2 linked regions of the Homo sapiens genome follow. The protein of the gene in region 1 interacts with the protein of each later gene in a biochemical or structural test. Each region holds a gene or a part of one and is shown on either strand. Other genes may lie near its edges.

Evidence for each region. The genes of interacting proteins can lie anywhere in the genome.
Region 2: the proteins of NOSIP (region 1) and PPP2R2A form a complex in vitro, tested with the Homo sapiens proteins (one study listed by BioGRID).

What each region holds. Positions count from the first base shown.
Region 1 is NC_000019.10:49,556,359-49,560,367, reverse strand, and holds part of NOSIP (nitric oxide synthase-interacting protein), read left to right. Parts: intron 1-328; coding exon 329-434; intron 435-463; exon of another isoform or gene 464-933; intron 934-1,018; exon of another isoform or gene 1,019-1,389; coding exon 1,390-1,471; intron 1,472-3,118; coding exon 3,119-3,278; coding exon of another isoform or gene 3,279-3,287; intron 3,288-3,374; coding exon 3,375-3,493; intron 3,494-3,631; coding exon 3,632-3,819; intron 3,820-3,942; coding exon 3,943-4,009. UniProt on the Homo sapiens protein: E3 ubiquitin-protein ligase that is essential for proper development of the forebrain, the eye, and the face. Catalyzes monoubiquitination of serine/threonine-protein phosphatase 2A (PP2A) catalytic subunit PPP2CA/PPP2CB.
Region 2 is NC_000008.11:26,350,508-26,354,007, forward strand, and holds part of PPP2R2A (serine/threonine-protein phosphatase 2A 55 kDa regulatory subunit B alpha isoform), read left to right. Parts: intron 1-3,500. UniProt on the Homo sapiens protein: Substrate-recognition subunit of protein phosphatase 2A (PP2A) that plays a key role in cell cycle by controlling mitosis entry and exit. Involved in chromosome clustering during late mitosis by mediating dephosphorylation of MKI67.

The DNA.
Region 1 (4,009 bases):
TCCAGAGGAAGAAACTGAGGCCCAAAGAGGGACAGGCACTTGAGCTTGGTCACAGTCAGAAGGGTGGAGGGGAGTCAGCCGTCAGCCCCTCCACCAAGCTGCCACTCAGTGACCAGGCCTGTCTGCCTCTCACCCTCCAGGGTTGACAACTCCCTGTGGGTTCAGCCCGTGGCCCCAGCACACAGGCAGCGGCTCCCAACTGCCTGTTTCTCTCTGAGTCCCCCACCCCCACCACCGCGTTGTCTCTGTGCCTCTCTCTGGGGCTTTGGAGACGGACATGTCTCCTGTTGCTCCGCCCCTCCATCACTCTGCCCATCTCTGTCCCCAGCGGCCTCGGGCTATGGGACCCAGAACATTCGACTGAGCCGGGATGCCGTGAAGGACTTCGACTGCTGTTGTCTCTCCCTGCAGCCTTGCCACGATCCTGTTGTCACGTGAGCTGGGAACAGGGATGGGTAGGTCTGGGTGGGGAGAGCAAGGGAACCGCCAGGAGGAGGCTGTGTGCGTGGGTCTGGCCACCTGCACAGCCAGGGAACCCTGGATGAGCAGTTTATCCTCAGAGCCTCTGTATTCTCACATGGGACATGGGCATGATCCTAGCATCTGTTTCATAGTGTGGAACATATGGAAAGGAACATACTTCTAATGGGGTGTAGGGCTCTCAGAGCATTGCCGAGGCCATCGGAGCAGCTCACCTTTGGACACTTCCCATGACCTACCTCTGATGGTAGGGCAAAGGCTTAACAGGTGCTGAGTCCAGGCACTAAATACGTGCTCAATTAGTGGTATATTTTGTAGAAGACAGTAATTAATGATCAGGGCCCCCAAGGCCACCTTCAGGTTTCTTTTTTTTTTTTGAGACAGAGTCTTCACTTTGTTGCCCAGGCTGGAGTGCAATGGGGACATCTTGGCTCACTGATATCCCAGGCTCAGGTGATCCTCCTGCCTCAGCCCCCACGAGTAGCTGGAACCACGGGTGTGCACTACCACACCTGGCGTTTTTGTTTGTTTTTTGTAGAGAGGGGAGCTCACTTTGTTGCCCAGGCTGGTCTCGAACTCGTGGCTGCAACAATATGTGGCACACATTGTTGCTGAGAGAATGAAGCACTTTCCCTGCAGCTCTATTGGGAGAGGACAGCTGGAAGCTCAAATCTAGTCTCTACTAGATTCTGCCCCATGTGCCTTTTTCCTTTGCTGATTTTAATCTGCATCCTTTCACTGCAGTAAACTATCACCATGAGTATAACAGCTTTGCTGAGTTCTGTGAATTCTAGCAAATAATTGAACTTGGGACTGATCATGATGACTTCTGCCTATAATCCCAGCACTTCGGGAGGCCGAGGCGGGAGGATCACTTTCTTTCTTTCTCATTGCACCCTGTCTTTGCAGCCCAGATGGCTACCTGTATGAGCGTGAGGCCATCCTGGAGTACATTCTGCACCAGAAGAAGGAGATTGCCCGGCAGATGAAGGTGATGGGGATGGGGAGGAGGCGGCACACGGAGGCAGGAGCTTTTGAGTCTGAGCTCACAGGCAGAGCCACTCAGAGCCCTCTGATCTCAGTTCCCTCTGCCTGGTACACCATTCCCCTCCCCTGCTTCCGGCCAAATCCTTCTCACCGATTTCAGCCCAGATGCTGCCTCCTCTGAGCTCCTGCCAGTCCCCAGGATCTGCCCCAGTCACCTCTTCTCTTAGCACTTAGCATAGTTGTAGCTGTACATGTGGCTGTCTGACACATGCCCACTTTCCCTTATGGACTTCGAGTTTTCCCACCCTGTAGCTTAGGTCCTTAGTAAAGATATGCTAAATGGGTCGGGGGTGGTGGCTCACACCTGTAATCCCAGGACTTTGGGAGGCCGAGGCAGGCGGATCACTTGAGGTCAACAGTTAGAGGCCAGCCTGGCCAACATGGTGAAACCCTGTCTGTACTAAAAATAAAAAAATAAAAAAAAAAATTGAGCCGGGCATGGCGGGCGCCTGTAATCCCAGCTACTCAGGAAGCTGAGGCAGGAGAATCGCTTGAACCCATGAGGTAGAGGTCGCAGTGAGCTGAGATGGCACCGCTGCACTTCAGCCTGGGTAACCGAGCGAGATTCTGTTTCAAAAAAAAAAAAAAAAAAAAAGATGTGCTACGTGAATTGACATCACCTCATTTTTTCTGGGCCTCAGTTTCATCGTCTGTAAAACGGGCTGACGGCCAAATCAGAGGACACAGCAGGGCACCTGGGAGGTACACGCAGATGAGCATTCTCAAGGCGTGTTACTGGGAACCCGGCCTGGCCTTCCATGGACAAAGCCATTTGATGGGTAGGAGGGGCCCTGTTTGAGGCACAGTGGGTCTGTCCCCCTCTTCCCCTGCCTGGTTGCTGGCGCTCAGGAAACACTACAGGTCACATGCTTATTGGGCTTTTTGTCCCAAGCAGGTGGCTCCCCCTGTGCCCATGTCCTCCACACAGCCTGGTGGTCATGTCGGAGGCCCTCATGAGCATCCATCACTGTCACTGTTACCTCCTCACTCAGCTGGGTGGCCCAGGGTGGTCTGGAACTGCAGCACCGCCCAGGCAACTGCTGTGCGCCAGGCAGGGCTGAGCTCAGGTCATGGCTTCACTTCTCCCGTCCTCACTCACTGTCCGTCCATAGACATGGGCTCCTCAGCATTCCCTTAGATCTGAAGTCTACATCCCCCGTCCCAAACACGGGCTGGGGCATGCACTGTATAGAAAACTTAATTGGCCAGCAGGTGACATTAATTAAATGCTTAGCTGAGTGCCAGGTGAGGCTCTCCATGCTGTAAACACTCACCTTATGTAACCCTTCAGTGAGCCGCTGAGGTGGGTAACCACTGTTAGGCTGTTTTACAGATGAAGAAACTGAGGCCAGGAGAGGTCATAGTGCTCACTTAGGCCACAGAGTGACAGAGATGGGCTTTGAGCCCTGGCAGTCTGGCTATACAACGCAGTAAGGTTCACACCCACCCAGGGTGGCAGTTACCACCCTCTGCCACATAGTGCCTCCATCAGAGGGTCCCCTTTGTGGGCCTCAGTTTACCTACCTGTGAAATGGGAGGAAGATACCCCCAGCCCCACGGGCAGATGCTCAGCCCACTTTCCCCGACGCAGGCCTACGAGAAGCAGCGGGGCACCCGGCGCGAGGAGCAGAAGGAGCTTCAGCGGGCGGCCTCGCAGGACCATGTGCGGGGCTTCCTGGAGAAGGAGTCGGCTATCGTGAGCCGGCCCCTCAACCCTTTCACAGCCAAGGCCCTCTCGGGCACCAGCCCAGGTGACTCAGGTTGGGCTTCTTGTGGGTTGGGGGGCGGGGCGCCGCGGGCTGGGCGGGCCCAGGGGGCGGCATCTGAGTCCCTTCCTTCCCCCACAGATGATGTCCAACCTGGGCCCAGTGTGGGTCCTCCAAGTAAGGACAAGGACAAAGTGCTGCCCAGCTTCTGGATCCCGTCGCTGACGCCCGAAGCCAAGGCCACCAAGCTGGAGAAGCCGGTGAGCCCCCACAGCGCCCCGGCACGCACGGTGCCAGGGCGCCAGGGTTCCCCACCGTCCTCCTCACGCACAGGGACCACGCGCTCTCCACCTGCGCCAGCCCTGCCTACTGAGCCCGCCTCTCTCTGCCCCTTGCAGTCCCGCACGGTGACCTGCCCCATGTCAGGGAAGCCCCTGCGCATGTCGGACCTGACGCCCGTGCACTTCACACCGCTAGACAGCTCCGTGGACCGCGTGGGGCTCATCACCCGCAGCGAGCGCTACGTGTGTGCCGTGACCCGCGACAGCCTGAGCAACGCCACCCCCTGCGCTGTGCTGCGGCCCTCGTGAGTCACCTGGGAGGGGAGGGAAGGGACCACTCGGGAACCTGCGGGGCGGTCCGGCTTTGGGGCCAGTAGGTCCCCAGGAAGGCCCCTGATCAGAGTCTCCCGCCTTCGGCCTCACCGTAGTGGGGCTGTGGTCACCCTCGAATGCGTGGAGAAGCTGATTCGGAAGGACATGGTGGACCCTGTGACT
Region 2 (3,500 bases), on another chromosome or scaffold:
TTCCCACTTCAGCCTCCCCAGTAGCTGAGACTACAGGCGTGCACTGCAACACTTGACTAATTTTTTTTTTCTCTCTCTCTTTTTTTGGTAGGGATGGTCTCACTGTGTTGCTGATCTTGAACTCCTGACCTCAAGCAATCCTCTGTCTTGGCCTCCCAAAGTGTTGGATTACAGGCATGAGCTGCGACTCCTAGCCAGAGCTGCTTTTTATATGTTTATTGGCTATTTGGATGTTATCTTTTGGAAGTGACTATCGAAATCTCTTATAATTTTCTGTGTTGTGTGTCATTTTTCTTACTGATTTGTAGACTTTCTTTACACTTTTTGTAGATGAACTCTTTTTCAGTTACATTTGTTGGAGGATCCAGGGGCAGTGGCTCACGCCTGTAATCCTAGCACTTTGGGAGGCTGAATTGGTTGGATCACTTGAGCCCAGGAAATTGAGACCAGGCTGGGCAATATAGCAAGACCTCATCTTTTTTAAAAAACAAAACAAAACAAAACAAGAAAACCCACACATTTGTTAGAAGTATTTTTCATTCTGTGACTTGCCTTTTCATTTTTTTGAATAGTATATTTTTATAAATAGAGATTATTAATATAATACAGTTGATCAGTATTTTTCTTAGGGTTACTGGTTTTTCTGTCCTGTATAAGAAATACTTTTCAACCCCAAAATCCAGGGAAGACATTTCCGTTATCTTTTAGAACTGTATGACTGGTACTGTAGCTACTAGATCCATGTGGCTATTCAGATTAATGGGGAGTTGAGTCTGTTCTCTCTCCCCTAATGCAAGACCCTGTTGCAGTGGTCCCTGTCTCCATGGCCCTCTTTAAAGTCAGCCTTACTACCTTATAAATAAGTAAATAAATAAATTTAAATTATTAAAAATAAATTGTAGAATTAACTTCCTTAGTTGCAGTAGCCACATTTTAGGTGTTCAGTGTGTGCCTAGTGCTCAACATGACTAGTGGCAACCATACTGGACAACACAGATACAGACTATTTCCATCATTGCAGAAAAGTTCTCTTGGGTCCTGTTATCCTAAAACTTAATTATTGTACCTTCACATTTATATCTCTTATTCATCTGTAATCACTTTACGAGTGGTTTTGGGAAGGGGTCGAGCTTCATTTTATTTCCTATGAATAGTCAACCTAACACCATTTAGTGAAAAGACCATCCTTTCCCCATTGCCCAGCAAGGCAACCTTTGTCATCATTTAGGCCTGTTTCTGGGCCATCTGTTCTGTTTCATTGGCACATTGGTGTATCCTCATGCCAGTACACAGTCTTTATGACTTTGCTTTAAAACTTGGTTATGATGTCCTTTAGTGAATTCTGTTAGCATCTGTGTTGAAAATGTGTGATTTTGGTTTTGTGTCCTGTGTTTGTAATGTATGTAAAGTATGTGACATAGCTCATTCTAAATCCTGCTTTGAAAGTCTTTATTGAATGCCTGTTATATGTGCCAAGTACTGTTATAGGTGCTGGGGAATAAAGCACATCTAAACTTACTGTAGAAACTTTCATGCAAATAGATTGTATGGTTAGGAAGATGATTCTCATAGTGATCATAAAGGCAAGCAAGAAAAGAGAGGGAGGTGAAAATGCTGTGCAGGTAAAGCCAGTATGAATTGTTGAAGGATGTGTCACAATTCTGTATGACTGTAGGAGAGGTTTTTAAAACAAAAACATTGTGTTTGATTTTGATGCATTCTCATTTGAGTGGCTCAGTGTTGAGTATGCGGTTATGTGTCTTCTTATTCAGGCTTGCTCACTGTACTTTGTTTGTGCAGGGAACAATGCTATCATGATCATTATAATGTAAACATCCCCTCCCAAAGTGTTAGGAAAAGTCTGCTGCAGCTCCCTGTGGTCTACTGTCAGTTACCACTTGTACCCATCTGTTTTATAGCCTCTTCAGTTTTGTTACTGCTGCTGTCATTTCTGCCATTACTCTTTGTCCTGTGGACTTGTTTTTAAAAGTTCTGTTATGATCACTTTAATAAAGTTTCAGGAGAGAGGGGAGGCTAATGCATGTGCTCAGCCTGGCATCTTGAGCTTTTTAGACAGAATTTTCTCCTTTTGTGATACATTAATTTATTTCCTGTTGCAAAGAGATGGAGCTTCTTGCAGTCCACGAAACTGCCATATACCTCTATGATTTTGTTTTTGGATTCTGTAAGATACCATGTTTAGTAGACCTGTGTTGTTGTCCACGAGTCTACAGGAAGATGTTCATGTTTTGTTTCAGAAAATATTTCTGTTGTTTTGTGCTTTTCTTAACTCATCAAATACAATGTGTGGCTCGCCCTTGGCCCTTCATATTGCTTACCTTAATTGTGTAGACCATAACCAGTTTCTACTTTGACTAAAGTTTGACGTACACAAGTTACTTGAATGTGGGGATTCTGTCTATCCCTCTACGCCCTAGTGTACATAGTACTATATATTATAGTCTCTTTAAGTGTTAAATGAAAAACCAGTCTAAAATGCAGGATTTATATTAAAAATCGAGTTGCCTGCTTAATGGTATTGTGGTTTCCTTGTAGACTATAATGATAAATTTTGTGAGACTGGGTGAGTCATTTTAGGTAAAAGATTTGTGGAGCTTTAAAGTGATACTGGAGTATTTATATATGTTAATGGAATAGGCTGTCTAATTTTGTGTATGGGTATGGTGATGAGACCAAGGCTCTGAGTCTGATTTTTACCCCTTGTGTATCCCCGATATGTGGATCGTTTTGTGGGACATGTATTCTTAACATTGGCAGACTTGCCCTCTAATAACTGATAACTGCTGTCCAAGGGTTCAAATACAACCATCCATGAATGAACAACCCAGATCATCAGGCTGCTGGAAAAAACAACCCAAAACATAGACTTTCAAGATGATTCAGTGAAGTTTCCTTTTGATATGGAGAATAGTAATAGGCTGTTTTTATTATCAAGAAGTTCTAAACATTTCACTGGGTAACTCACTTTTACTTAAAATAGTTGACTGTCAATAATATCTCATTCTATTTTTTACTTAAACTTTTTCCATAGGTGGTTCTTTGAACTAGACTTTCAAATTTTTTTATGAAAATGTTTTTAATCGTGTGATAATAGGTCAAAAGATGAAATTCTGAACATGATTATAATTCTCACTTTTGCTGAGATATTAATGCTAACCAGAGTAGTTCAAAAGTAGTCCCTTTATGAGATAGCTTAAATTACATTTTTTCAAAGTGATACTAAATGAAATTAGTCATCAGTGTGTGCCAGGTTCATAAGATGAGAAAGCAAATTTAAGGCGAGTAAGCAGTTGTTGATGGGGGTGCATGGGGCCATTGCTGGGTAGTGCTGAATATGGACTTGATTGGTAGCAAAGCTGTCTGGAACAGTGGTCTTGGGGTGGGAGGTAGGGGTCAAATGGTATCCCTTCTTTTATAAGAGCTCTTTTTTTAAGCTTTCAGCAGCGAAATAACCAAAAGGCGGGCAGCAGAAAGGAAAA